Linked DNA regions of Homo sapiens. The protein of the gene in region 3 purifies or fractionates together with the protein of the main gene of each other region. This does not show direct contact. Each region holds a gene or a part of one and is shown on either strand. Other genes may lie near its edges. The genes, in order: ASNS, RIMS1, DZIP3, DHX36, TOM1, RPRD1A and IVNS1ABP.

Region 1 (4,179 bases), on a different chromosome or scaffold from region 3:
AGTTTCAAGACCTACTTCCTATTTTGTTTGGAGGGAACACATTAAGATTTGGCACACTCCACCATTGAGTAAATACCATCATGATAGATGTTGATGATTGTGTATTTCATTTCAATAACTAATCCAGCCCAAGATTTTCTGGAGCTGTTTGATTTACTGCTGTGTTTATAGGTTTTGAGATAGAAACTGTGAAGAACAACCTCAGGATCCTTTTTAATAATGCTGTAAAGAAACGTTTGATGACAGACAGAAGGATTGGCTGCCTTTTATCAGGTGAAGTCAATTAAAAAAACCTAATTATATTTCATGTGTGTTTAATTGAAATGATTTGTAGCCATCCCTTTGGTTTTTACTATAAAATATTTACTGTATGATTTACTCTTTCCTTCATTATAGGATGGAAATGATTTTTTATAAGCTGTATTTAATAGTCATAGTCATACTCCAACTTGAGTTACACTATAGCTATGTTATTGGTGTTAAGAGTGAGTCAGTGAATGTTCTTTAGAATTCTGTGTAGTGATTTTTAACCAATTCAAATACTACTATTATCACAGTTTATATATTTTTCTCTTGTTGAAGTTGATTTCAGTTTATAAAACTTGGCGGATTTTAAATAGTAAAACTATGATCTTGGTGTTTATCAGGAATATACATCTTCTGTCCCTGTCTTATGCAAGGCACATAACTAGGACACTTCCACTTCCTCTTTTGCATGTAGGGGGCTTGGACTCCAGCTTGGTTGCTGCCACTCTGTTGAAGCAGCTGAAAGAAGCCCAAGTACAGTATCCTCTCCAGACATTTGCAATTGGCATGGAAGACAGCCCCGATTTACTGGCTGCTAGAAAGGTAAGGTGCTGTCTCTGTCCCTTGTGTAGTGTAGTTAGAGTAGACTTGTTATTAGAATGAAAATGGAGTCAATAATGGGTGATTCTACTGCTGCTGTATTGACTGGGTCAATTGTTTTAAATTGATTGTATTAAAATAGAATGAAATGGCTGTTGGATATGCACTGTGTTGTACACTGTCCTCTGTGTACTTTTATCTGTTATGACCCATGCAATTCTCACAAAGACCCTATGATGATAAGTATGCTCTTTTGAAAGTAAAGGTGTCTGGGCATGGTGGCCTACACCTGTAATCCCAGCACTTTACGAGGCTGAGGGAGGTAGATTACCTGAGGTCAGGAGTTTGAAACCAGCCTGAGCAACATAATGAAACTCCATCTCTACAAAAAAATACAAAAACTAGCCAGGCTTGGTGACGCATGCCTGTAGTCTTAGCCTTATGGGAGCCTGGGTGACAGAGTGAGACCTTGTCTCAAAAAAAAAAGAAAGTAAAGGCATAAGTCAGGTGCAGTGGCACACACCTATAGTCCCAGATACTTGGGAGGCTGTGGGGGGAGGTCTGAGCTCAGGAGTTCAAGTCCAGGCTGGGCAACGTAGCAAGACCCCATCTTGAAAAATTAAAAAAACGGGTTTTTTGTTCGTTTTTTTTTTTTTTTTTTTTTAAACGTAAAGGCATAGTATCATGGCTAAGACTGCAGACTTTGGAACCTGACTTGTGGTTTGAAATCCTGGCTCTACTCATTTATGTAACCAAAATAATAGTGTCTGCTATGGGGAAATTTTAAGGTGAAATGATATAATTCATGTAAAGTAAGTAGGGTAGAACTTAGCATGTAGTAAGTACTTAATGAGTGTTAGCTGTTATTATTATTTTTGAAAGTACTGTATTTAGAATACTGTGGGCAGAGGGCAGCTTGTCTGTATTCAGTGAGCGGGAGACCTAGTTCCCACTATGGAGGACTTTCGTAGCATGGATGAGAAAAAGCTAGAGAGCAGTCTCAGTGCAAGGTAATCAATGCCGAGAGAATCCAAAATAGCCAAGGAAAGCAGAATGAGGGGAAGGGCCATTCTATATAAGAATAACATCCTGGATATAAAATTAGGCATTTAAGAAGGACCAAAAAAGACCAAGCTTAGCGTGGGACCATGTTGGACTAGAGAGAGATGAGGTGGGTTAGGTAAAATAGGTAGAGAGGGAGGTGCCAACTGGGAGAATGGTTGAAGCCTTGGCACCAGAGGAGCTGAGGGGAGACTTACTTCCTGGTGGTGGAGTTGAAGCAGGCGAGGGAACAGTGCTGGATGGGGCTTGTATGTGGTGGGCTGTAAAGTCATTTTTCTTTTTTTCCCTTGTTTAGTTTTCACCATTGTTAATTCATAAAGCTTTGTGAACTCCCATCATGTTTGATTTTCAAGGGAAGTTATTTTCTTTAACAAGTAAATGGGTATTTCTTTATATAATAAGGTGGCAGATCATATTGGAAGTGAACATTATGAAGTCCTTTTTAACTCTGAGGAAGGCATTCAGGCTCTGGATGAAGTCATATTTTCCTTGGAAACTTATGACATTACAACAGTTCGTGCTTCAGTAGGTAAGGTATTATGATATTCTTAAATAAAAAGCTTTTTTTAATACTGAAAAAAATGTAAGGTTTAAAAAAATTATTTCAAGCCATAGTTTTAAAATGTTATTTAAGGATGAATGCAAATTAAATCCCTATGTTACTGATTATTTAAGACCACTTAAGAATTCTCTGAATCTCTTTTGGAGTGAAGGGAATAGTAAATACGTAGTTCAACCTCCACATTGTTGGTGTCACTGTTGGTGTTTCCCCAGGGAGCAGATACATATTTTCTGCCCTCTACCTCCCATTTCTCTTATAGTTTCTTGGGCTACAGTCTATATACAGTGAGGAAATAGGTCTTTTTGGTAATGCATTTTTGATAAGAAATAGTCATTTTAGATATATTCCATCACACAACTTACCAGTCACTAGCTATCATTGCTCTGCAAACAATACTAATTTTATCTTGTAGATAATGTATCTACTGAGATTGGAAGTATACCCCAAATCAGACTGATCCAGTGTTATTGAGCCTTTATATGCTACTGCCTCCCTTGAGAGACTTGCCTTGGAAGGCAAAAATATCTTAGGTATTACAATGGTTTATGGCCCTCCAAAACATCACAGTAAATAAGCAGATAGACAGGATAGCTCTGGTATTGGAATTTCATGGGGCTGGGGTGAGGTTAGGAAAATAAGTGTCTAAAAAGGCTCTCTAGCTGAGGTGATAATAAAAACAAGGTTGAGAAGAAACACTGGTTTAGAGAGATGTGGTGCAGGACCAAGGAGGCAAGTTTAATAACTTATATAGTCTCCCCAGCTTTATGTGAAATCTGGTAAATGGGGAGTGGCAGGGGGAAAATACCCATCAAAATTAACACTAAACCACCAAAACGGTTATTCTTATTTTTGTGTCATAATACCACTATGAAAGGCATGATTTTTAGGTATTTGAGTCATTGTTCAGCTTAGCAAAGTTTTGAGGTGGACATTCTTGGTCTAAAAACATTAGAATTTTAAAACCTGTTTAGAAAATGACAAAATGGTTCCGGGTTATTTTATTTTACAGTAGTACTTTTGGATTAAGTACATATAAATGGCTTATAAATACAAGGTCATTATTGTGGAAACTACTTTATATTAATATGAAGTCCAGTATAGTAGTAAAGCTTTCAATTATTTCCAAAAATCAAATCAAAGGCATTTTTGGTGGAAGGTTATGTTGACATTAAAGTTAATTTCTCTCTCTCATTTAAGGTATGTATTTAATTTCCAAGTATATTCGGAAGAACACAGATAGCGTGGTGATCTTCTCTGGAGAAGGATCAGATGAACTTACGCAGGGTTACATATATTTTCACAAGGTAACCACTCTGAAGTGGAGGGATATTCATGCTATATTAAGAAAAGTATGAATTGTTTGACTATTTTCTATCATCTTTCAGTATGACAGTGATATTTTTGAGTATCTTGTGAGGTTACAAAAGGGAATCTGATAGTGTTTGCTTTCTATCTCTTGGGGAAGAAAGAAATTTTAATGTGTCAGATAATTTTTATTCTTTAAAACTAGTTACAGCTGGGTATGAGGGCTCATGCTCATACCCCCAGCTGCTGAGGAGGCTGAGGTGGGAGGATCACCTGAACCCAGGAGATTGAGGCTGCAGTGAGCTGTGATTGCACCACTGCACTCCTGCCTGGTTGACAGAGTAAGACCCCGTCTCTTAAAAAAAAAAAAAAAAAAGTTAAAAATAAATAAATAAAACTACTTA
Region 2 (4,617 bases), on a different chromosome or scaffold from region 3:
TCCTTCTCATCCAAAAATCAAATACTTTAAGCCTGCCGGCTTGAGGGAGGCAGAACCCTCGTTAATCTGCTGCCTGTCCCTAGTGGAAGAATGACGTCCCTGGTGCTGCAGGCTTCCCCTCTTCTGAGACTGGAAGTAATGGATGGTGTCTGATAGTGCTGCTGTCTGTCTGTCTGGTTGTCAGTCCGTCTGTACTCACTGGTTACAGCCCCTGCCACCTGTCCTGAACACCTTTTCGGCTTGTCAGGATTTACAGGTTTGCTGCTGTTCCTTTTGCTGTTTGCTGCAGACAGCAGGTGGATGGAGGCCTCCAGTAGCTAGTGGAAAATATAGGCTGCTGCTTGCCAGAGTCCGGATAGGAAGGGGAAGGCACGGTGCAAGTAGTGGCCATCATGCCTCTTCATTGGCTGTCTCAAGCATGGTGGAGAGTGAGGGATTTTAAGTGGGAGTGGGTGAGTTTTAGGACAGAATTCCAAACCTGCTAACTGCCAAAGGACAGCAATTATAAGATTGTATGGGCTTATATGGGCAAATAAAAATTAGGAGCACTGTCCAACTGCTCATGTCTAACACATCTTTTCCGCTGCTTTTCCTGTGACTGCTTTCTACTGGCTTGCATATATTGTTCCTTTGTTGCATGGATTCACAAAATATCACTGTATATGATGCTGTTATACAACAGCTCTCTATAATCCTGGACCTCTGTATTAACTTTATCCATCAGCCTCCTCTGCTAATGTCTTGGCCTTTTGTTCAGTGACAGATTGGTGAGTGTTTTGGAATCCCAGTTTGCTGCCATGTAAGCATGTCATATTGTCTGCAATTAGTGGAAAAGTGCTGTAATTTTTTTTTATAGGGGACACTTTATGTCTTAAAAACTGGGGATAATGGGAACTATTTAGATGACACATATATATGAGGACATAATGACACATAGTCATAGATGGTGGCCTTTTTAAAACTTTGTGTTAAAATAGATTGGAAAACAGGATTCTTTTAACAGGGCTTTAAAATATTGTTACATCAGAGAAAAGTTTTTGTGGTAATTATGGGTGATCATAATCACACATCTGAGAAATTACTTTCACAAAACGCTCTACAAAGCTTAAGTTCTGGCAATACGGCAATTAGACTTAAAATTCACTTGTGTTATTGGTGCAGAACTATCTCCTTAAGCTACCTACTGTGCATGCTGTCTCTTTTCACAATGTATAAAAATAGGCGCAGAGAGAAAATAGAAAATGATGGATGAATATGTGAAACCAACATTATAAAATATCAATTAAAATGTATTTGTAAGTTTCATCGGCCTTGATTGTAAATTACTAGTTGAATTTGGCTTTGAGAATGTCTTTAAATATGTATAAATGGAAAAAAATCAAGCTACTTTAAAATCAAGATTTTAGAAGATTTTATTTGAAATTGAAAGTACTTTATCATAAAAAGAATTCGTTTTGTTGGCAAAGTACACTAATTTTAAGTTTAATGGCCATATAACTGGAAATAGTTGGCTCCCACAAATTATGTTTAATGATTGACTTAATTATCTGCAAATTAGAGGTCTTTTCTTAATCTTAATAGTGTTTTGGATGTGAGTGTGTGTGTTCTGAAGGCTTTCTGAAACCTAACTTTCTCGATGAATACTCCTTCAAGTAACTGTTACTAGACATCATGAGCCAATATATTACATAGGCTGAAAACTGCATTATCTGGGACCTAAATCAGAGAAGATCTCATTAGATCTAGGATCTTACTCCTTTTTGTAAAAAAAAAAAAAAAAAAAAAAAAAAACTTCATAGAGAAAGCAGCTACTGAATAGTAAGAGAAGAGAAAAAATGTAGAGAGTTAAGGCGATGGTTTGAGGATGAGAATCGAGTACCATATTGGAATATAATGTAAATAGGTAACATTTATTGAACATTAACCTCACACTAGCTCTTATTTTAAGTTATTTAATCTAATGCCAAATAGTTAAACTGTGCTCAAGTTTATTATAAGTATAAATATTTGGATTCTCACAATAGCCTGTGCAGAAGGTAAACCAAATAATATAATTCTCACATCCTCACACTACCCTCAGAGAATTTAGTAATATCCTAAACTGACTCACATAACATGGTCCAATCATGATTCAAAATCAGACCTTTTAGTCTAAATCCAAGTATTTTCCCGTACACTACACTGTCTTCCTACCAAGAAGCAGCCTATATTTCATTTATATTTTCTTTAAATGAATTTATAGTCTTTTCTCAGTTGCAGAGAAGTGGCTTGGCAAAAAATTAGGCTGATTCAGATCAGCTGCTGATCACAGCAGAGCCTGGGGCTTCACCTATACTCTTTCATAGAGTGTTAGAAGGTAATAAAAAGCATCACAGTGTAGTGGAAAGACCATTAAGTTTGTATCCGAGTGTTTTTAGGTTCTAGTTCTAGTTCTGCCACTTACTGTGCAAACATGGGCAAGAAAATTAAATTGAGATTGTATGAAGTTTCATTTTTTTCCTACAAATCCTTCAGTCCATGGTATGAATTGATTTATAAAGAGTATTGACTTTGGGCTTCTCCTTCTCTTCTTAACAGGTCACCTAGCATTTGCTTTCTAATCATCCATAATTACTACTTTTTTCCTGGAAAGGAGAGAGAAAGTAGAATGAGAAGAATTCCTGTAACTTCAGCTTTCCTCCTCCTTTTACTTACTTTACACAAATATAATACTGTGGCCTGAAATATATCCATAAGGTTCATTATGAGAGATCCCAGTTACCAACTGGGAAAAGAAGAAAAGTGGAAGGAAAATCTGGGGAACCTTGAGGGGGATGAGGATAGCGTTCCTATGTATGCAGGTATCATATTTTCATTAGGGTTTGAAAAGATTTTAATATCTTACACCCCAAAATATGAAAAAGGCATTATTTAAGTAAATACATTACTAAATTAGAAGGAGAATATGGAAACCAGTGTGGGCTGGATGTGCTACTGCTGACTTGACTAATAGAAGCATAATGTCTTGGGAATGTTATTTGCTCAACTTTTTAAACGAGGAAAACAATTTTTGTAAACTTGTGCAGTGAGCTTCCTGGAAAGATATCAAATATGAATTCCTAAAATCATATTATTATCCGCCCATACCTGTAATAAGCAGATGGATGAGGTTGCAGTACCATGGCTTATAAAGTCAATTGTATTGCATTTAATTTGTCCTCATGGGCTGTTTTCTACTTTTATACATTTGGTCCTGTGAGTTGGGTATTTTAGAGTTGGTCCTGAGAGTCAAAGTAAATTTGCCTGAGGCACGTGGCAGCTAGCATAATGAATCCAGAATCCATGTACACTGACCTCAAACCATTATTGTTCTTTTAAGTCTTTAAAAAAGTGCATTGAGTGCTGGCTATTATGATTTGTTTCCCTCATCTGTTGGAAAGGAAACTAACATTTATCGTGTACCTTCTATGTATTATGCATTTGACTGGATGCTTTACAAATTTTACTCACCCAGGCTCACCTCTTGAAGAGAATTCTAGCCTGTGAGTATTTATTAGTTTTCCAATGTTAGTGAAATTCCCAGAACTAGCTTGGCATCTTCCTGACCCTTTGCTCATGACATTTGATTCTGGAGTCCAGAGAACAAAACTTAAAGGAGTGAGAGAGGAGCTTCATGTGGCTAGTAACATGTTCCACCCTTTTCTGAGGGTGGACTCTCCAGAACTGTCTGGCTTCCGCAGTTCTGGCCCCAGGTGACTCTCTAACCCCATTTGTACCTGGAGTTTTCCTTATCTGCTTGCTGTTTTGCCCACAGGGTTCCCTAATACCATAGCATTTTCCCACCATTCCACCTAACCATGAGTTATCTTTGTTTGCCACTATTGTTCTGAATTTTATTTATTAAATAGGCTATTTCTAACAAAGTGTCATATGATATTTAATTCAACAAGACCATTGTTTCAGGTATTAGAATTAGGTCAGGCATTAGGCTGCTGGGGTAGAATAAAGGCGAATCCTCTGCTTACAGCCCAATGTTGGCTGAGTTCCTATCATTTTAAAACTGCCGTAGTCAGAAAAAGAGGTGAGTGCTGGATAGTTGGATAGAACACTGGACTAGATTCTGGTCTTAACATTATGACTTTTTATAGGTGTGAACATTGTCAAGATAATCCATCCAAGCATCAGATTTTATATGTAAAGTGGAATTTATAATGGCAGTCCTTCTAATCTGTGAAGCTTTAAAATGATAGTGGAGTCATCATATCCTCCAAATTGCTGTTTCCAAGAAAGGTGCCATTATTATGCTTATTTGTTAAAACTGTAGAACACCAAGATTATATTTTCCAGTAGTCTTTGAAGGTACTAGGGGGCTTGGGAAGATGAGCTCTTGGAGAAGAGCCCACCTATCCTTTCATGCTAGCAATGCAGTGTTGCCAGGGTTGCAGCTCCCAGTGTGAGAATTTGACAAGGAGTTAAAAGGTAAAATGAGTTCAGGGCTTGGTCTGAGACTATATTTACCTTCTTTCTTTTCTTTTTTTTTTTCCCCTCTCATTAAATAGCTCGTACATGTTTTTAGCACAAAAAGCAATGTGGGCAAAGTGATAAAGTTTGAAAGATCTAAAAGGCAATCCTAATTCA
Region 3 (4,617 bases):
ATACTAAGTTTTGTAATATGGGAATTATACCGGGGTGTGAACACAGGGCTAATTGTTCATTCATTCATCTCCTGTATATTTAATGAACACTTGATGCTAGGTCCATTTCTAGGTTCTGGGAATACAGCAATGAATCAAATAGACAAAAATTTCTGCCCAAGTTGTTTTCTTATAATGGAGGATATAGACAATAAGGCATATAAGTAAAATTACATGAATGATAGCGGTAAGTATTAGGGAGTGAAAAAAGGGAGGAGGAATAGGAAGTATCAAAGTCAGGATAAGGTGTTACAATTTTAGATAGGATGGAGTACTAATTGATGTATGCCAAATAACAAATCACCTCAAAACACAGTGGTTGAGACCATGAGCGTTTATTTCTTGCCCACAGATTTGTGGTTGACTGCAGTTTGTCTGCTCCAGGCCTGATTTGACTGGGTGGCTGTGCTTCAGCCTTTTCGTGGAGAGGGGCAGATACCTGGATTTCTATTTAGGTTATGTTGTGATGTTAGACATCCAGGAGAGATTGAGTAGGCTATCAAATTACTGGTAGTTAAAGGAGCGGTCAGGGTTGGAGATAGAAATTGAAAGCCTTGAGACTAAATGATATAGGACCAAGTATGGATAGAAAAGACTTTTTAGGACTGAACTCCCTGATATTTAAGTATTTAGAGGTTGGAGAAGTGTGGAGGAACTGGCAAAGGAGACAGAAGTTAACTGCAAGAAGACACAGGTTCTGTCTTGACGCCATGGTTGCCTACAGGTACCAGCTTTACTTGTAGCATATGAGCTGCCTCTTGACTTCTAAAGGAGAATTTTAGGTTGGCCAAGAAGGCTGTTACAATCTACACACGGGCTCCCTCTTTACATCTGCCTTCAGAGGCCTTGAGGTGTGCAGAAGGGTGGGTGAGTTCATTTTTTAAAGCAATATTGAGTGCTTAACGTGTGCCAGGTGCTATTCTAGGCACCAAGGAATGAAAACAAAGTTTTCCTAACTTCATGGGGCTTATATTCTAGTGGGGACATGAAGCCAAATCTAAAACTGAGGGATTATTCAGTAGACATAAACGGCTGGTAGAACAAAAGTTTCACTGGCCCAGTTTCTAAAGCATGAAATCAGAAATCCTGCAGTAGAAAATTGGCACAGGTCTAGGCATGGGGTCATTTAGATAACCATGTGCCCAATATAGCTAAAATAATTCAAATGCTAATATTAATCTGATTCTACCCCTTATGCAGAGTCAGGAAACTAAGTGTATGATTAGTGTCAACTCATATTTTTCAGAAATGTTACCTTTGTCACAAAGCCAGAAAATCTAAAAAAAATTAATTCTCCTTTTACAATTATTTTTCCTGTTTTCTTTCACAAGTATCAAGTATTACAGTTCAGCTAAACTCTAAATGATTTGCCCAACCATGAAGTTAACTTTCACTTTTCAAACAGTTTCTGCTTTTTCTTTTTATACATTTCACAGCATTCAACTTTAGGTTAAGAGTACAAGGTTTGAATATTTTGAGTATATATTCCCCCATTTTCATATCTTATACCACATCTCAAATCTAATCACATCTATCCCAGAATAAGAATGTTGCCTTGCCTTTTTTTTTTAATGCAAGTACTATCCATTGTTTCTGAATCCAGTGTTAAGTATAAGTAGAGTGTAAGTAAAGATGAAAATGATATACTTTTAAGTTAAGGAACAGTAATCCTGGTAATTACTATTTCTTGAAGACCTATCTTCAAGATAGGTGCAGAGCATGGGTCTTTGCTTATCTCACTTTTAAATTTCTGGTCTTTCAGAAAATAAATACTATCAGGCTTATGAAATGAGTGGATATCTATTTCCTGAATTAAAATGTGAAGCTGTTTTCGAAGACAGTAGTGTCCAGAGTACAGTATGCACACCTCAGGGGATATGTGAAACTGTCCATTGAGGTGTGGGAACAAATATTAAAACGTTTTTTACTTGCTTTTATCTTATTCTTTTTTTATGTTATAATAATTATGCCTGCATATAATTTATAAGTGAATTGATATTCTTATATTTTCAGCATATTCTCAGATCTTTTACTGTTTTAGGGCTATGTGATCAAAAAAGTTTGGAGATTTCATTTTTAAAAATCTTTAACTTTGAGAGATCATTTAGCCAGGTGTGAACTATTGTCCATTTCATTGTTTATTTCAGTACCATGTATAGTATCTGAATTGTTTTGTTGAATAGAAAAACTCTTAGCAAAAACTAGTGTGACTAGTGACTATGAAATATTAGGCTGGCATGATTAATAACTTTTATAGTATTACTAAGAATGTGTAAATAGTTTCATTTCTGAGTATGCATATGTGCATATTATCTAGTCCAGCTCATAATTATACACTAAGCTTATATAAAATTAAATATGTTACTAGAAGTAATGGGACATGGAAGAAAATAGAATTGCAGTTGGTAAAATTTGGGCATGAATTTCTGCTCTTACGGATTTATTAGCTATGAGACTCTATAAGCCTCAGTTTCTTAATTTTTAAAACTTATTACAATAATGTTTATCTTCCATAGTTGTGTAAAGATCAGATGTTTATTCAAGGTGCATAGCTTAGAGCGTGGCACATAGGAGCTGATGAAAATTAAGCTTATTTTCAATGCAACCCAAGGTAATACACTCAGTTAATACTATATGAAAAGAAACTCTTTATAACCAAAAGCTCGCTCTGCCTTCTTACCTACACGCTTCTTACAAATGTATGCTTTTCTGAGATAACAGTGAGCTGCCAATTTTCTTACATGGGGTGGAGCAAGCTGGAGGTGGATAGGGCAAGCTTTCATTGGTGGTGGTAGAGGCAAGTACATGAAAGAAGTATTCCCATTCCCTATTTGATTACCATCTCTGCGTGCGTTATGTCTCAGGATTCTCCCTTCTTTTCTCATTATCTAACAACTATAATGACAACATAATATTTTTAAATTGCTGAAAATATTCCACCTTTGGAGTATGTGCTTAGGGGTAGCATATGCTTCTTCCAGTGGTTTCTAGCTACGTTTCTGAAGAGTGTGGTTTTAGCAGTGCTATCTGTAAATGTTTGAAACTGATGGCTTGTTTAGTATCTGGATAGTTTTTCAGGTAAATCCTAACTTGTGCATATTCATTGTAGGCACATTCCAACTATTCAAAACAAATTAATATGTATACTATAGGTTTACCTGTGTAAGTCCAAAAGTAACTAATTGAATAGATCTGAACAGAATTTAAAACCTGCTTAAGACAAGATGTTAATTTTGCTTTAGGAAAGGATGTTTCCCATGTTGGCAGATTTGTAACAAGGGGTGATGAGTATACATTATAAGGCACTTATTTCCTGGTTTAAGCAGATATATTGCTAACAGTGATCTTTGCAAAGTGGCAAGAGCTAACATAAACAGTGATCTTTTGGGATAGAAAATATCTTCCAGTTTCTGATAACTTTTGCAAAGATTTTTCCACCATCATCCATAAGTTCTGGAGTTTGAATAAGCAAACTGTATGTTCTTTGGGAGCAAATAATATTTTAGCTACTGGTGTCTAGGTGTATTTATTTTGTAGCTTTACCAGGAAGTTAAACAAATTAAAAAATGGAGAAATTAACAGTAAATTATAAAACCAAGTAATCAGTATATTTTGTTCATACTAATTATTGCTAATACAAAATAATGGTGCAACTTGTTAACTTGTTATTCTTTGAGTCTAACCTAATGGCCTCAGCCATTTTTGTCTACACAGAGCTCACTAACATACGAGAAATAAAGACTTTCATAGTGCTGTAACCACAGAACAACTGCACAGTGGACCGAATGTTTGTGTCCCCCCTCATTCAGTGTTGAAATCCTAACCCCCAATGTGATAGTATTAGGAGGTTGGGCCTTTGGGAGATAAATTAGGTCATGAAGGTGGAGCCTTCATGAGCAGGATTGTAAAAGGCCAGAGAGCTCTCTCACCCTCTTTCTACCATGTGAGGATACAACCAGAAGTTAGAAGTCTGCAGCCCAGAAGAGCACCCTTATCAGAACCAACTTTGCTGACACATTGATCTCAGACTTCTAGCCTCCGGAACTGTGAGAAATAAATTTCTGTTGTTTCTATAGTACTTTACTATAGCAGCCCCAATGACTAAGACAGTCATTTCAAAAGCCACAAAGAATGGCTAGTTATTGCTGCTAATCTAGCAGATGTACTCAGATCAACAATAGTTAAAATTCTGATTCCAAGGAACTCCTATCACAAAATGTCCTGCCATGTTCTTTGAAAGTGTTTTCTTCAGTGTTTTTAAGGGTTGAAGTGACCATAGCATCTTGATGTGTCAACTTTGAGGAGTTTTTTGGAATTCTTTTGGTAAAATTTAGCAGAAATGATAACTAGCAGTGTCAGAGTCTGCTTGTTAACAGACCCATGATCTTCTGGAGTACATTTAATTCAATGTTGAGTTAGGAAATCCAGCTTTTCAAAATAGCTATCAAAATTTTAACCAAGTTGCATGTTCAAGGTGGTGGTATTACAGCATTGTTTGTAATAGCATTTTTTTTTTTTAAAGTCAAACCTAGAGACAGCTGAAGTTTTTAATCAAAGGTCTGGTAAAATGATACATGC
Region 4 (4,617 bases), about 46 Mb from region 3:
GCAAGATCCAAGTTTGGAATTAAGGTATGTTCTCTGCTACCTGCAGCATCCAGAAACTCATTGTGGGGAGAACATCATTAAAAATACAAATGTTTTTATTTAGAGTGTAAATTACATTTTCAAGGGCTAATCATACATGCTCATTGTAAAAGATTCAGCTGTTCATTCCTTCCATTGACAGACTTCTCTGGGGCACATACCATGTACCAGAATTATATCTGGCAGAGACACTGCAAGAAGTATAGGATATGGAGAGTGAATAACCTCTTTTCAAATTAATAGTAATAAAAACAAGATCCTACTACACAACTGACTTATTTAATACTTTGGTCATCTTTCCTGTTTATATACTTGCAGAAAGATCTACCCACTGTTAACCACTGGGTGTACTACAATTCAACTAATTCCTTATTGATTAGCAGATGCTTACTTGGTACATATGCATTGTGTAAGGTATCTTAAAGTCTACCAACTGATGTTGACTTTTTAATGAAAATGAATTTTGTTGTGATAGTTTGGACTGGAAGATTGTGTAGATCTGTTTATTTTCAGTAGACTGTTATGTTATCCAGTAATTCACCTTTTCCGGGGGCGTGAAATCTCATAAAATTAGAATAATCTTTTGTGCTGTTACGGGCAGGAAGTGGGCAATGTATTGTGAAATGTCAATCTAGGAAATTGTTTACTAAACAAAATATAGAGTAATGAGTTAACATGGAAAAGTGAGAACTGTAGGAATAGCAGATATAGGTTATATTCTAACTAAACAGATACATCAAAAAACCTTAAGAGGACTTTTAGTAGAGACATTTTATGTCCTGACAACTGAAATTAGCCACTCATTTTCACTTCAAAAAAGGAGGTAACATATAGTTCATTTGCTTTGCTTCTTCAGGTTTGTTGTTTTATCACTGATTTCTCATATTTATTACATTAGGTTATCCTCCTACCCATGTAAACTTATTTGAGCTTTCACAAAGCATGTAATACTGATTAGAATTAGAATGTCTTACAAAACCCTGTCTCTTGTCTTAAAGATGCTTATGTCTTGTTCTCCTGGGACACATACTCCTCTACCCACCCTGGGTTTTCAAACTTTATGTTAAACTTTGTTGTGACCAGCTATTTTGGTGTTTGTTTAATTGGGATAGAATACAGTGAAGAGAAGATAAGAGTTGCACTGTACAGAGTAAGGGAAGTATTTTGTGAAATTACTTGTATATGTGTGTACTGGGTCATTAGTTTTACTGTGGATTGCTATAAAAAATAAACAATTGAAATCTATTGCTCTAGATTTTACAGTATTTTACACATTGCTGTCTGCTTTCATCAGTCTCCTTACCCTAGCTCCTGCTTCCCTCTTTTTTCCCCAAAAATCAAAACCAAACCTCAAAAACCAAAAATACCTTGAAGATCATTCCCAACTGCCTAGTTGTTGGATACAGTAGTAATTTTTTCAGTTCTCTGCCTTACTTACGTCCATTTTATACTTCTGAGTCCTTTTTTAACACCTTTCTTCACTTCATAGGAGTGGTTTTCTCACTGTGTGCTCCTAGTCTTTTGTTTGTTCTCTTGATTACTCCTCTGACTTATTTTCTTGCCTTGGCCCCGTGAATGCCAGACTTGGTCATCCGTCTGTCCTCATCTTTGGAGGTGGTATTATTTGTAAATTAAGAGAATTCCTGTGTCTCTGTGATTTCAACTTTGCAGAACACTCCAAAATTTCTATCATAACTCTAAAAACAAAACCTCTCAGAGATCAATTTCCATATATTCATCTACCTAGTCATTATTACAAGTCGGGAAATTTCATCTTTGTTCTTAATTGCCTAAAATCCAAACTTAGCATCCTATTGTGACCTCCATCACCACCACATGTACACAAAAATGTACAGTAACACAGAGCAGCTTCCTTTTAATGATTCATCTTACTGCTGCTCTCTCAGGATCCACCCTTGAATTTGAAAACAGTTCTTTGATTCTTTCTTCCTTTTTGTCTCTCCCCAACTTCCACCAAATAGTCATTAAGTCCTGTGGTTTCTTTCTTTCGATTTTTGACTGTTTTCTTTCCATTTATACTTTTACCTTCCTCCTCCTTTGGTTCTTTAACCTAACACACTCTAATTTTCACCACTCCGCGTGTGTTTCCTTTTGCCTGTGGATTTATATGCACGTTAGAACCTAAGGTTTGTAGTCCCATAAATTTTGAAGAATCTGTTTTTCAACTTTTCAACTTACTATATCTAAATATAAAAGTCTCCAAAGAATTGGGTTTTGGCATTCATTCTCTTTTTTTTTTTTTCACCTTGGACATTTCTTAGATGCGTAAAGTTTCTGCAAAGTTTCATAGTTCACCAAGGACCTTTATATTTGTCCAGTCTGTTGTGTTTTATTCTCATTCTTTGAAGCAACTGCGTCATTTGCCACATTGGATCACCTTATAAGCACTGATGAATTTTATTTACTCCTTCTGAGCTCAGCCTTACTTACCAATTTATTCTTCTGTTTAGTGTAAGAACTTTCAAATGTTCATTACAACCAAACTATTTCCAGTTTTCAACTTTTTTCGTAAACCATTTGAGTTTTAATAACTTTGAAATTTTAAGATAAGGAGAAATTCATAATAATTAGTATGTGAGGGTTTGGGGTAAGAGAACCAGAGTTGTAGGAAGAGACATAAATGAGCTTTCTTTGCCAATCATATTAGGGCTAATTTTATAAATGCTTGTTGGAAAAGGTCTAGAAGGATATGTACGAAAATTTTAACAATTAATTAGGTCTAGGAAGGGGGGTATTGGGCTAGAGGACACCTGTGGATAACTTTCTTTTATATGTATTTGTTGAACATATATTACTTAGCCTTTATTTTCTTCAGTATCAAATAATTTTTGCATATGCTTTCTTATGTTGACAAGGATGCTTTTTTCTTTGCACAAACTAGAGAGCTGTAGTACACATGGATGAACGACGAGAAGAACAAATTGTACAGTTACTGAATTCTGTTCAAGCGAAGAATGATAAAGAGTCAGAAGCACAGATATCCTGGTTTGCTCCTGAGGATCATGGGTACGACAAGAAATATTTTTTTAAAGAATAGGCAAAGAGTAACACTTTAATAATAAAAATAACATCTTTATTTTCTTCGATAAGTGAATTTTAACCTTTACGTACTTTTTTTCCTTATGTAGATTAAACAGATTTAGAAAATGACTTTTAAAAATTTAGATGGCATGTTTCCATAGGAAAGCTAAATGGTATGAATAATAGTGTATCTGGATATGAGATGTATTAAGTTGTTATTTATTGTTCTCCCTACCTGTCCTCTTTGTATTTATGAAATTATTCTGTCTGGGAGATCTGCAAGAAGTGAAATTGCTACCGTTTTAGAAAGATTACAAGAACTGTATCATTTAGAGGAAAAATTAGTACAAGTATTTCAAAGACTGTGTATTGTAGCATCCTATTTGTAGCTCAGAAAGGGTGGCAAGAAAAAAAGATGTTGTGACATAAAACAAGTTCGAGAAATCCAGAAAAAGAGAAACACTGTAAGTAACCGCAGTGAAGGAATGACTATTCTGTGGATTTTTATTTTTAACTATCACAAGGAATAACTTAATCTGGCAATATCTATTTAAAGGGAAGAAAAATTTGAATTTATTATAAGAATCTAAGTATATTTTCATAATTACTGTACTAAGAGAAAAGAAAAGCTTTGGATTTGGATGACTTTGAAATATTTCAACAGCGTATTGTTTTGTTTTGTTTTGTTCCAGTGTTTGAGTGGCTCATCTGACCTTTCTTCCTTTCTTATTTTGTCAAAACAGATACGGTACTGAAGTTTCTACTAAGAACACACCATGCTCAGAGAACAAACTTGACATCCAGGAAAAGAAGTTGATAAATCAAGAAAAAAAAATGTTTAGAATCAGGAACAGATCATATATTGACCGAGATTCTGAGTATCTCTTGCAAGAAAATGAACCAGATGGAACTTTAGACCAAAAATTATTGGAAGATTTACAAAAGAAAAAAAATGACCTTCGGTATATTGAAATGCAGGTAGTAGAAAGATGTCAAAAAATATTTTGTCATTTTTTTCTTACACTTTATAAAAATGTATGTATGGTTAGAGGTAGCTGCATGGCATAGATCAGTGAGATCCTCAACAAGACATCCCTGTGGGAATTAATTTCTTTTCGAATGGTAGAGAAAAGCAGTGGGAATGGAAGTTACACATAACCTACAGTATCCTATCTCATCCACAGAAGCTTATGTGGTGAGAAGAAATGTTTGAGAAATGCTAGTGCCAATGAAAAAAAAACTTACTCTTCAGCTTTTCTAGGCCAGTTTAGTGAGGTGCCATGTGCAGTAAAGGCAGTTAAAATTGTAAAGCTTGTTCCAGATTACTTAATACATCTTCTTTTTATAGATGATAAAATTAAATATTTCAAAAATTATGTGATGTGCTTTGTTCACTAACATTTTAAATACAGGACTATCACAACACCTGAGATCTCCTGAATTCTGATATTTTCTTTCTATGCTAGGCAAGATATTTTAAGGTCCCTTTCAGTTAAAACATAAAATTGTGTGATTTGTGGGTGTTCTAGAGATGTA
Region 5 (4,617 bases), on a different chromosome or scaffold from region 3:
ATCCCAGTCCTCTAGGAGGAGAGAGACGGCGGGATCCCAGTCCTCTAGGAGGAGAGAGGGTGGGATCCCAGTCCTCTAGGAGGAGAGAGAGGGGGGGATCCCAGTCTTCTAGGAGAGAGGGCGGAATCCCAGTCCTCTAGGAGGAGAGAGAGAGGGCAGAATCCCAGTCCTCTAGTGGGAGAGAGAGAGAGGGCCTGCAGCGTCCCTCCCCGCCTTGTGGGGAGCCACCCTCCAGGGCCTTGTTAGCTGCTGTGTTAGACCCAGGAGATGCTGGAGTCTTCCAGCCACACGTGGTGGCTCATTCCGGTGTGGAGATGGTAACGGTTGGTAGCGCCTCTGTGAGGGGTCTGTAGAAGGGGTGGGGCAGGCCTCTAGTGCAGAGCTGTCACTTTGGGAGCCAGGAGGGAGGCTGCCTAGAGAGGCTGCTGGGAGGTCGGCTCCCTGGTGCTGCACCCAGGGTTGGTGGTACTGGGTTCTGTCGCTGTGAGTAACATGGGCCCCAGAACCCTGGCTTCTCTCACCACGATCAACTGTGTGTTTCAGATTGGGAAGCTGCGCAGTGAGCTGGAGATGGTGAGTGGGAACGTGAGGGTGATGTCGGAGATGCTGACGGAGCTGGTGCCCACCCAGGCCGAGCCCGCAGACCTGGAGCTGCTGCAGGTGAGCAGGTGGCACCACCCCCTGGGGCTCAGATGACTCCTGCCCAGCTGCCCACATGCATTCTTTCCCAATCCTCATGACAGTCTTCATGGCTTACTCCATACTCCTTGGTCACAGTTGGGGACATGTTACCACCAGGGACTTTGGACGCCATCAGATTGGAATCAGATCGCAGCTCTACCACTTTCTGGTTTGAACAAAGTAGCCCCCCTGGCCTCAGTTTCCTCATCTGTAAGATTGCTCTAACAATAGCCTTCATGGCACAAGTTTGATGTGAGTTAAATAAGGTATTGCATGAAAAACACGCAGGCTTGTGCCTGGTACAGAGTAAAGCACCCAGTAAGGGGTCCTGAGAAAAAGCTGGAAGGTGAGATTTACACCATTCAGAATCCGAGACTCAGCAGGCAGGTGTGAGAGGGTGGTGCCAGCCTTGAGATGCGCCAGCCACTGATCTTGGGGAGCCAAGGCAGGTGGAGCTAGTGGTTCCTGCTCCCGGGTGTCACATGGTATTCCCACGGCCCCAGCCCAGATTGGGGGTCACTGGAGCAGAAGGGACACTGAATTTGGCAAAAAGCACCCTCCCCATGGAGGCCAGTCATAGAGGCACCAAGAGAGCTAGGAATCCCCAAGGCCCAGGAGTCACCAGAATCCATGAGGAGACAGAGCGCTTCGTGTAACTGTTCGAGTTCCTACTGCTCGTCCACCAGGCCTCAGGCTCCTTGAGGGCAGCGCTGTGTCTTCCTCGCCACCGTGTCTGTGTGCCTGACCGAGCTGACTCTGCAGGGGTCCTCACTTGGTGGTGCAGGGTGGGGAGAAAAGGAGTAGCCTCAGAGTCCAGTGAATACACAAACTTGAAACCCAGTAAGGGCTCCGAAAGAGAGAAGACTGCGCAGGCAGCCTCGCACGCCCCAAGCCAAGGCCATGAGATGTGAGCAGTCTGGGGACTCAGAAGGCTGAGCAAGGTGGATGCAGGGACAGCTCCCATGCACTGGGCACTTCCCGTGTCCCGGGCTATATGTGGACACTTGGTTCACATCGCTCACGTAATCCTGACCACCCCCATTTTCCAGGTCAGGAAATAGGCATAGGGAGATCAGATAACACGTCCAGGGTTATATGGCTGGTAAGTAGCAGAGCTGCGATTTGAACCCGGGGGCCTGGCTCCAAGTGCTGCTCTTCTGCTCTTGAGAGGGGCCAGCAGGGAAGCAGAAGCAAAGCCACCGTGTGCTTGGTCATAAGAGCAGGAGGGGAGCCCACAGGATGTTGAAAGGCACCCGCCCTGTCCCCGTGCTAAGGGCGATGAGGAAATCCCGGAGGCCTGACCTTGGAGGGGGCAGGGGACAGGGTCCACATGACAGCCAAAATAAACACTGGGCAGTGCCGAGCCTCAGCGTTGCCTCCAGGAGAAAGGCGTGCTGGCGTGAGGCCACAGTCGGCAATGCCGGGCAGCTCCCTGGACCTCAGGACCCAGGCACCTGCCGTGACCCAGGAACCTTCACCTGGTGGCAGGTACCTGAAGAAATAATTGACCAATCTTAAAAATGAAAACCCATATGGCTATGGTTTTTTATTTTTTTATTTTTTTTGAGACGGAGTCTTGCTCTGTCACCCAGGCTGGAGTGCAGTGGCGCGATCTCGGCTCACCGCAGCCTCTGCCTCTTGGGTTCAAGCTATTCTCCTGCCTCAGCCTTCCAAGCAGCTGGGATTATAGGCATACACCACCATGCCCGGCTAATTTTTGTATTATTAGTAGACACAGGGTTTCACCTTGTTGGCCAGGCTGGTCTTGAACTCCTGACCTCAGGTGATCCACCCGCCTCGGCCTCCCCAAGTGCTGGGATTATAGGCACGAGCCACCGGGTGTAGCCATTTTTTTTATTTTTCATAAGTTTAAATATGACACCTAGTGGTTAAAAGTCGGTGACGTGATAACTAAATGCAGTGTAGGATCCTAGAACAAACAAAGGACATTAGAGGAAAAACTAGTGAAACCTGAATAAAGTCCGCAGTTTAGTTAATAGTATTTTACCAGTTTTAATGTTTAATGGTAGTTTACCAGTTTTGACAAATGCCAGACTAAGGGGAAGCCAGGGTCAAGGGTATATGGGAACTTGTGGTACTATCTTTGCATCTCTTCTGTAAATCTAAAATTATTCCAAAGCTAAAAGTTTGTTTAAAAAGACAAAAAATCAGGCAGTGAGAAAAGTGAGGCAAAAACTCGAAATCGAGGTTTGTGGCTAATGGTTGCAGTCATCTAGTTCATTCTGTATGCTTTGGTTGCAAAAATCACAGCATACCCCCAGAAGTTGTGGTTTGTTCAGCCAGCCCCCTTTGCAGACTCAGTTTTTTTTTGACTAAGCAAAGATGGTGGCACAACCTTTATTCTGGAATCTGCACGAAGCCAAGTTAAACCGGCAGCACAGTTGGACATGTTGATGGTTTCCTGTGGATTAAATTTTAGCATCTAACACTTGGAAGTGAAGTTCAAGTTCATGTTTGTAGAACCCAAAAAGCTGTTCCGTGGAACCTTGAAGTCCAGTTTGGGCACCTCACCCTCCTCCAAGGCTTGTGCAGGGGCTGGAGGCCCGTGCATTAGAGATGGCCTCACTTGGCCAGGCGCGGTGGCTCACGCCTGTAATCCCAGCACTTTGGGAGGCCGAGGCAGGCAGATCGTGAGGTCAGGAGATCGAGACCACCCTGGCTAATATGGCGAAACCCCGTCTCTACTAAAACTACAAAAAAAAAAATTAGCCAGGCGTGGTGGCAGACGCCTGTAGTCCCAGCTACTTGGGAGGCTGAGGCAGGAGAATGGCATGAACCCAGGACACAGCTTGCAGTGAGCCAAGATCGCACCACTGCACTCCAGCCTGGGCGACAGAGCTCCGTCTCACAAAAAAAAAAAGAGACGGCCTCACTCTGAGTCATGTGACTGTGGTTGCCTCACTTCCTTTCCTGGCAGGAGCTCAACCGCACGTGCCGAGCCATGCAGCAGCGGGTCCTGGAGCTCATCCCTCAGATCGCCAATGAGCAGCTGACAGAGGAGCTGCTCATCGTCAATGACAATCTCAACAATGTGTTCCTGCGCCATGAACGGTAGCCCCAGCACCTCCCCTGGCCTCTGGCCTACTGCCCCAACCCTCTCCCTTCCCTTCCTCCCTGTTCTCCTGGTCTCATGCCATCTGAGCCTTCTCTCGTCCTCCTCTCAAACACAAGGCAGGCTCCTAAGGGCCTGTGCCCTCAGCTGTCTTCTTCCAGGATGTTTATGAGGGCCCCTCCTTCCAGCCGCCCTGTATCTCCTTTCCAGGGTTAGCGCTGCTGCCTGTGCCCAAGTCCAGCCCTGGGAGATGGTCACAGGTCACAGCTGAGAGCACGGCCCTGCAACCAGACTGGCCTGGTGTGTCCTCGCCCACTCCACCACTTCCTGGTTCTGGGGCCTTAGACAAGTGACTTCACTGCTGCAAGCTACACAAAACATTTCTGGCTAACTTAGGCAGAAAAAGAATTTGTTAGGATAATAATCTTTATTAAATGGGTAGCTTTCAGAATCCAGAGAAAAGTGAAACTGATGTCTCCCAACAGAACAAGAAAGATGGATCCCAGGGCAGCTCAGATGTCTCAGGAGCAGAAATTCCTGGACCATCTCCCCAGGGTGCTGCCATCAATAAATACATCAGCTCAAACACTTGTCCACAAACACCTGTCCACCTTTTTTTTTTTTTTTTTTTTGAGGCACGATCTTGCTCTGTCACCCAGGCTGGAGTATAGTGGCATGATCACAGCTCACTGCAGCCTCAACCTCCTGGGCTCAAGCAGTCCTCCCACCTCAGCCTGCCAGGTAGCCGGGACTACAGGCATGCACCACCACACCCAGCTAATTTTCTTTTCTTTTTTTTTTTTTCTTTTTGCAGAGACAGGGGTCTCACTGTGTTGCCCAGGCTAGTCTCAAACTCTTGGCCT
Region 6 (4,617 bases), on a different chromosome or scaffold from region 3:
TGTATTAAATGCCTTCTCTGAAGGAAAAATATTTTTTGAACTGTTGCTAAGGTGGGCCTTTGGAGTACTTGAATTACAGCTTTCCTTTAAGAGACCAGAACCAACTGCTATATTGGAATGAACTTCATTAAAAATGAATGAAGGTATTGAAGTAAAAATTTGTGTGTTTATAAAGCTATCAGTCTTGTAACAAATATTTCCATATACACTTAGTACTGTTTCTATTCTTTTTTTTTTTTTTTTTTTTTTTTTTGAGACAGAGTCTCACTCTCACCCAGGCTGGAGTACAGTGGTGCGATCTTGGCTCACTGCAACCTCTGCCGCTTGGGTTCAAGCGATTCTCCTACTTCAGCCTCGCAAGTAGCTGGAATTACAGGTGCCTGCCACCATGCCTGGCTAATTTTTGTGTTTTTAGTAGAGACAAGGTTTCACCATCTTGGCCAGGCTGGTCTTGAACTCCTGACCTCGTGATCCACCTGCCTCGGCCTCCCAAAGTGCTGGGATTACAAACGTGAGCCACCATGTCTGGCCTGTTTCCATTCTTTACTTGCCCTCTGGGTAATTTTGTACATCGCATGTATTTGGTTATTCTCCACACCGTAATGACTTACAGTTTTATGCTCCAGTCCAGATTTTTTTTTGTTCCAAACCTGTGTGCCCAATTGCCTTTTGACATTTTTACTTGTATGCGTCTCAAACATTTCAGACTCACTGTGTCTGATACAGAACTCATTATGTCCTTGCTTCCCACCGTACTTGTCCCTCCTGTAGGTTTTATACTCTGTGAATGGCAACTCGATCTATCCAGGTGCCTATGCAAGAAATTATGTTACCTTTAAACTCTTCTTTCTCCTTCAGTCCCCATATCTCACATAGTACACATTGACTCGGTTCTTTGGATTTCTTTCCCTTTTAGTTACCATAATGTATTTTCAGTATAATTTTAATGCCCTTTAGTATTGTTTAATTTCTTTAGAAAACTCGACAGAGTTGCAGAGCTGGTCATAATACTTCCTTGCCTTTGAGTGGTTCCCATTTGTTTTAGAGATGAAGTCTAAAGTCCTGAGCAAGACTTAAGGTGTTCCTTCGTGGCACTGCCTATCTCCCCAGACCTCTGTCTCGCATTTATTCCACACAGTCTATAGTCTACAGTTTAAGCTAAATTAACCTTTTTTAGTTCTTTCCGCCTTAAGTCTTCTATATATGTTGCCCCTCCCTAGAATTCAGTAAAATATTTATTGGCTGCATAAATATTTATTATATGCAAAACCCTGAGTAGTAGTGACCAAGACAGTTTTGTTCTACTGGAGCCTACATTTCATTGGATGACAAAGTTAATAAGTAGATAGACAAGTGAATGCATAATGTCAGATGACAAATGCTAGCAAGAAATACAAAGCAGGGAAGGAACTAGATAGTATGAGGGCGCTCAGTTATGTGATGAGATAAAGAACAACTATTTGGGGAAGGTGGCATTTGAACAAAGACTAAAGGAAGGGGTGAAATGAGCCATTTGACTAGGCAGAAAGGATTCTAGGTAGAGAGAATATGTGGCCGAAAAAATGAGATAGCTTATATGCTGGACATGTTTGAGGACCTTAGCAAGGAGATTTGTATGGTACTAGGTATTAGGGAGTGTGTACTGAGGGACTGCCAGAAAGCAGAGCATGTGGGCCTTATGGCCCAGAGTAAGGATTTTGGTTTTATTCTTGATGTGATTGGTAGCTCTTGGAGGATCAAGAGCTGTATAATCTGATTTACATTATTAGGATGCTTTGTACAGAATAGAGTAAAAGAGTAGAGGCTGGGAGAGCGTGAGAAGACTTTACAAAATTCTAAGCAAGAGATAGTAGTGTTTCTGTCTACAGTGATAGCAATGAAGGAGGTAGGAAACAGTTGGGAGTAGTCTGTTTTTCATTTCCCCATATGTCTAGTCTTAAGATCTCAAATTAAATATCATTTCCTTAAATACTCTTCCGGATATCTCTTAAACAGGGCCAGGTCTGTCTTAAGCACTTTGTTCTCTTTTGTGATACTTATAAATAACAACTGCCATAAGCTGCATTTGCATCTCCATGTCAAAGATAGTAACTGGATCAATAAGTATTTGTTGAATAAATTTAAAAAAATAACCTATGAGAAATCTTCCTTAGCCCCATGTCCAGGCCCCATTAGGATAGGAAATCCCTAGCAGCCAGTACTAAAACTTTTACAGTTTAAACTTTTTTTGGTTGTGTAATAATATGTTTATAAAATGTTTACTAGAAGCAAGCAGTGTGTCTAGATCACTTCACTTTTGAGCTGCTGGCCACATAGTGATGCTAAGTAGACATTTGGACAGTTTTTTCCAGGGAATGAATGTCTGATTATATTTAAAGTTACCGTTAACCTTTTCAATAACACTATGCATTGTTACTGTTAACATTTTTCTTTTTTTCTTTTTTTTTTTTTTTAGTGAAACTGATGAAAGTTGTAAGAAGCACCTTGGAAGAGTGTTATCTATTTGGGAAGAAAGGTCTGTTTATGAAAATGATGTATTAGAACAACTTAAACAAGCTCTGTGTAAGTGTAGAATCCTGATCTCTTACCTTGATCTCTTCATTAAAATGTATTCTTTCATTAATACTTAAATGTTCTTTCATTTCAGATGGTGATAAGAAGCCTAGGAAGCGAACTTATGAACAGATAAAGGTGGATGAAAATGAAAACTGTTCCTCTCTGGGATCTCCAAGTGAACCACCACAGGTAGAAATTTTACCCTGTTAAAAGAGTTACAAACTTTTACTTCATGTTGCCACCAAGCTTTATTAATTTCGTTTCACTTCTGTAAATTGATTTCTATTATACTTTTAGGTACAAGAAAGAAGCCACATGAATATCTCTTCCTCATTAACAAATTGCTTATGTTAAATGTAGTATGTTGTATATTGTATATTTTGCATAGAAATCATGTTTTGTATAGAAAGAGGATTTTTAATTGCCAAATATGGTTAGATGTGAGATGTTAGCTATTTAAACTTTTTAAAATAAAACAAAACATGCCTATTTTGTTATGTGATTTTTTTTTTTTGAGACGGAGTTTCACTCTGTCCCCAGGGCTGGAGTTCAGTGGCACTATCTTGGCTCACTGCAACCTCTGCCTCCTGGGTTCAAGCGATTCTCCTGCCTTAGCCTTCCAAATAGCTGAGACTACAGGCACGGGCCACCAAGCCCAGCTAATTTTTGTGTTTAATAGAGATGGGGTTTCACCATGTTGGCCAGGCTGGTCTTGAACTCCTGGCCTCAAGTGATCCTCCCACCTTGGCCTCCCAAAGTGCTGGGATTATAGGCATGAGCCACTGTGCCCGGCTCATGTATGATTTAAATACACTAAAATTTTCATTCTTGGACATAATCACTGCCCCTTTAAGTATTTTTGTTTTTAAATGTAAAAAGTAGTGTTAGAGTGGCCGGGCGCAGTGGCTCACGCCTGTAATCCCAGCACTTTGGGAGGCCAAGGTGGTCGGATCATGAGGTCAGGAGATCGAGACCATCCTGGCTAATATGGTGAAACCCCGTCTCTACTAAAAAATACAAAAAATTAGCTGGGCGTGGTGGCGGGCGCCTGTAGTCCCAGCTACTCGGGAGGCTGAGGCAGGAGAATGGCGTGAACCTGGGAGGCGGAGCTTGCAGTGAACCGAGATAGCACCACTGCACTCCATCCTGGGTGACAGAGCGAGACTCCGTCTCAAAAAAAAAAAAAGTAGTGTTAGAGTGATATATATGTGTTCATACATTTCTTTGTAACTATATAGAACTATGTAATTCTGTGGAAAAATAAGTTAGAATTATTATCTTAACACTCTGTGTCCTCCTACATGTTGGTATGGTATGGTATTCCTTAACCATCAGATTAATTCCAGAAAGACTTTTTTTTTTTTTTTTTTTTAAGTGGGCATTGAGTCTTTAAGCTTCCTCCTTCTATGTTTCAAACATGTAGGCGGGACAGATAAAGTGTAAAATGAGAAAATGAAGACATAACCATACTCTTAAAACAAGGCGAATGTATTTTCATGGGTTAGAAATTGTACACCTAACTTCATAGGTGAGACAAAACCTGGCTCCTGCTGAGCCCTGGTCCCGAAGCAGACATGGGGTTGCCAGAAATTAGTATCCTTTAAGGTCACAGGAACTCACAAGGGCAACAGGAACTCACAGTGCTCCGTGGGAGTTAGAGGACTGGTTCCAAATTCACTGAATAAAATCAGAGGCTGGGAGGAGCTCTTTCCCCCATGAAGGTGAAAGAAAAATACAATCAATTACTACCTGTAACTGTGGATTTATATTAGTCTCAGTACTGGAGAAGCAGAAGGAATCAGACCAAGGCCACGACCTGAGTCAGCCTACCTGTTTGTTCAGTGATAGGAATGCTGAAGCCCATTGGCCACTATGGACAAGAGCTTGAATAGAAAAGTGATAAGAATGTTACATTTGGAACAACCAAACACTAAGATTTATGTCTCTTCCTATTTGGTAATAACTCATGACAGAAAATCATTTTTGGCTAAGAGCCTCATGATTCTATGAACAGTGTTTTACCTAAGTTCTAGATAAAGGATCTGGTCTCCTTCCGCTCTC
Region 7 (3,295 bases), on a different chromosome or scaffold from region 3:
GAGCCCCTATACAAAGATTTTCCAGTTTTAACAAATTTAAGACCCTCTCAAACTAACAGGCTTAGTGATGTAATTATGGTTAGTAGAGGTACACTTGTGAATAAAGAGGGTGGGTGGGTATAGATGTTGCTAACAGCAACACAAAGCTTTTGCATATTGCATACTATTAAACATGCTGTACATACTTTTTGGGTTTATTTGGAAAGGAATGCAAAGATGAAGGTCTGTTTTGTGTACTTTTAAGACTTTGGTTATTTTACTTTTTGGAAAAGAATAAACCAAGAATTGATTGGGCACATCATTTCAAGAAGTCCCCTCTCCTCCACATTTGTTTTGCCAATTTGCACATTAAATGACTCTTCCCTCAAATGTGTACTATGGGGTAAAAGGGGTAGGGTTTAAAGATGTAGACAGTTGGGTTTTTTAAGGGCCCTTTTTCAATAACTGGAACACTCTATAACAAAGGATACTTATTTAAATAGATGACATTGACTATTTTTGTTTTTATTAAAAGGAAGCTTACATGCCTACCAATATTTAATCTTTTATGATTGCCTTTTTATAACTTTTTATATTCTCAGCAGAGTGCTTTACCAATTGAAGTAAAATGTGGCAGGCTGGAGTTATTGAAGCAGAGTGGCAGTCTTCAGTTTGCAGAGTAGGGGTCTGTCTTTTAAACTCTGAGTGCAAACTTCAGAGTTCTTGCCTTGGCTGCAGTTTTTTTCCTTCAAGAATGCAGTACTAACATTTATTTGAGTGGAGTTACTGAACAGTAACATAGCTGTGATTTTTGGTATTTGAAACACTGGTTTTAAATATTTTGACTTGTTGAGGGTATGTTTTATATAGCAAGACATTATATAGCAGTAAAAAATGGTGTTTTATCTTCTATATAATTCCTGTTTTTATTATTAACAAAACAGTCCTAAATAGCAGCCCTCAATTGTGAAAAAATTTACTTTAAACTACATTAGGTTGTGAATGCAGGTTTTATCAGAACTATGTTTTTGTTCAGTTTATCTGTTCATATGGATAAATATTGGTTGGGATGACTTGGTGTCTAATGTGTAGTGCTACACACCTAACTTATGGGGCCAAAATAGCATGTCCTAATGCTTGCTGCTGATTTAAACACATTAAAGGTACTTTGCAGGAAATCCTTGCACCATGGGATTAATATCCAATTGCTGCTTGTACACTCATTCATTACTAAAAGTTTTGAGAAATTTTTTTTTCCAGTAATGAGCTTAAGAAATTTGTGGAAAATAACTCACCTGGCATCTTACATCTGAAATAAGGAATGATATAAGGTTTTTTTTTCTCACAGAAGATGAAGCACACAGGAACCTAATGGGCCAACTGGGATGAGGTGACTATTCTGAGATGACTATTCAGTGGCTAACTTGGGTTAGGAAGAAAATAATTAGGTATTTTCTCCAAATGTTCACTGGTACTCTGCCACTTTATTTCTCTCATCTGTTACACAAAGAACCACCAGGAAAGCAAATCAGTTTGGTTGGTAACTCTGTAATTCCTAACTATCACTGGTTTGGTTCTGGACTAAAACTACATTGACAGATTGAATTTGCCTAATATGATGACTGTTTTTAATATGGATCTGTATGTGTTCTATTCAGCACAAGGAAATAAAATTTTAGTTGAGGATTCAGCACTAAAATCCTTGAGATCACTTCTCATTTCATAAGTGACATGCTTAATGCAAATAATATATGGGAATACTTTGGGTCAAAGTTTTCCTGCATTACCTTGGATGCCAAAGAGGTAGTTTGGTGGCCAAAAAGTATCTTTTTTTAAGAAGCTGTTGTAGCTAGTCTGCATGAACATGAGAAGTTTCCATAAAGGAAAAAAAGCAGTGCTCAGTGGCCATTTGTTACTGTTAATCTGTATCTAAAAGGTACATACTTTCTTCAGAGAGGGAGAAAATGGCATAGCCTCAGCACAATTTAAAAAAAAAAAAAAGCTTTTTAACCAGTAGGAATTTTTGAATAGTTTCAAAATAATATTGATAATACCACACTTCTGGTCAACTTAATAAAACACTCTAAATTTCCTAAAAAGGTAGAAAAGCTATAAAATATCTAAACCAAATATTATTGGTTATACTCGGGTGGATCTTTTATTATGAACTTTAAATGTAGGGTTCTGATTTTTGGCTTCTAGTGTGTCATGTACTTTACCACTGCTCAACATGTTTTCAAATTCCCAATATAATAATCATATTTTAGGGAAAATCCAGGATTTGAGTATGTGATATATCATTAGAATCCTTGCTTAATTAACAAATTAGGTGTGTGCCCTATTACCTCTCCTGACCTCAGAATTCTTAAAATTGAAGTAGGCAAAGGAGGAGCCCCAGTAGGACATTTCTGTAACTGCATGCAGAGTTGCCTTCAGAAAAGTGAATATGATTCATGGAAAATTCAGTTGCTGTCGTAATTTACACGCAGCTGCTTTTTGTTCCAAAAAAAAAAGGTCTGAAGAGTCAGCAAGTGAGACATAAGATACAAGGTTAATTAACTAGGTGTAAAGGAGAAAGAAAAACACTCATATATGAATCCTTAAATCCTTGGTAAGACTGAGCTACAAGTTTCATCCTATAAACAGGTTTTATTAAGTTAAATCAGTGTCTCTAGGTTAAAAAGGAGTAATTGCTATGAATTGCAGATATCCTTCATAATAAAACTGCCAGTTTCTCAAGAATATTAATGACACTTTGAACAAGTAGAGTTTATAAACAGGAACATACAAACTCATGTGAATGTCATGGGTTCTTCAACCTATGAGCATCAATAATCTTGGCCAATAAAATAATGAACTTTATTAACAGCTCCACACCTTACTGGGTGGAGAGAACAAAGGTGAGAAGCAAAACTCAATCATTATGCTGGATCTGTGTGGAATGCCTTTAACAGAGGCATATATCTGAATAGAGGCCACACACTTGCTCAGGATGACCAAAGGAAGTAACATAATTTTAGCCAGAAAAAAAAGGCACACAGAAAGACCTAACTTGGAGTAATGAAACTACTGAGATGAAATGTCCAGCAAGGTAATAAGATGAGATCTGTTAAAACGATTTTTAAATGGGTAAAATATTTGAAGACACTTTGCAAAAGAAGTTGATGCCATAAGAACACAGGAAAATACTATCATAAATCATTAAGAAAATGTAAATTAAAACCAAAATGGCATACACCTATTGAAACTGAATATACCAAATTCTGCTTACGATGCAGAGCAACTTGAACTCTCATACATTGCTGGAGGAACTGCA

The links.
Region 1: the proteins of DZIP3 (region 3) and ASNS purify together in Homo sapiens (affinity purification with mass spectrometry, with the first as the bait; one study listed by BioGRID). This does not show direct contact.
Region 2: the proteins of DZIP3 (region 3) and RIMS1 purify together in Homo sapiens (co-immunoprecipitation; one large-scale study listed by IntAct). This does not show direct contact.
Region 4: the proteins of DZIP3 (region 3) and DHX36 purify together in Homo sapiens (affinity purification with mass spectrometry, with the first as the bait; one study listed by BioGRID). This does not show direct contact.
Region 5: the proteins of DZIP3 (region 3) and TOM1 purify together in Homo sapiens (affinity purification with mass spectrometry, with the first as the bait; one large-scale study listed by BioGRID). This does not show direct contact.
Region 6: the proteins of DZIP3 (region 3) and RPRD1A purify together in Homo sapiens (affinity purification with mass spectrometry, with the first as the bait; one large-scale study listed by BioGRID). This does not show direct contact.
Region 7: the proteins of DZIP3 (region 3) and IVNS1ABP purify together in Homo sapiens (affinity purification with mass spectrometry, with the first as the bait; one study listed by BioGRID). This does not show direct contact.

The regions. Positions count from the first base shown.
Region 1 is NC_000007.14:97,854,948-97,859,126, reverse strand, and holds part of ASNS (asparagine synthetase [glutamine-hydrolyzing]), read left to right. Parts: intron 1-171; coding exon 172-273; intron 274-721; coding exon 722-849; intron 850-2,310; coding exon 2,311-2,437; intron 2,438-3,667; coding exon 3,668-3,774; intron 3,775-4,179.
Region 2 is NC_000006.12:71,888,807-71,893,423, forward strand, and holds part of RIMS1 (regulating synaptic membrane exocytosis protein 1), read left to right. Parts: intron 1-4,617. UniProt on the Homo sapiens protein: Rab effector involved in exocytosis. May act as scaffold protein that regulates neurotransmitter release at the active zone.
Region 3 is NC_000003.12:108,595,802-108,600,418, forward strand, and holds part of DZIP3 (E3 ubiquitin-protein ligase DZIP3), read left to right. Parts: intron 1-3,975; exon of another isoform or gene 3,976-4,085; intron 4,086-4,617. UniProt on the Homo sapiens protein: E3 Ubiquitin ligase proteins mediate ubiquitination and subsequent proteasomal degradation of target proteins.
Region 4 is NC_000003.12:154,314,488-154,319,104, reverse strand, and holds part of DHX36 (ATP-dependent DNA/RNA helicase DHX36), read left to right. Parts: intron 1-2,941; coding exon 2,942-3,066; intron 3,067-3,824; coding exon 3,825-4,059; intron 4,060-4,617.
Region 5 is NC_000022.11:35,326,728-35,331,344, forward strand, and holds part of TOM1 (target of Myb1 membrane trafficking protein), read left to right. Parts: intron 1-543; coding exon 544-660; intron 661-3,619; coding exon 3,620-3,753; intron 3,754-4,617.
Region 6 is NC_000018.10:36,028,936-36,033,552, reverse strand, and holds part of RPRD1A (regulation of nuclear pre-mRNA domain-containing protein 1A), read left to right. Parts: intron 1-2,455; coding exon 2,456-2,562; intron 2,563-2,647; coding exon 2,648-2,745; intron 2,746-4,617. UniProt on the Homo sapiens protein: Interacts with phosphorylated C-terminal heptapeptide repeat domain (CTD) of the largest RNA polymerase II subunit POLR2A, and participates in dephosphorylation of the CTD by RPAP2.
Region 7 is NC_000001.11:185,294,771-185,298,065, reverse strand, and holds the end of IVNS1ABP (influenza virus NS1A-binding protein), read left to right. Parts: coding exon 1-31; 3' UTR 32-1,678; downstream 1,679-3,295. UniProt on the Homo sapiens protein: Involved in many cell functions, including pre-mRNA splicing, the aryl hydrocarbon receptor (AHR) pathway, F-actin organization and protein ubiquitination.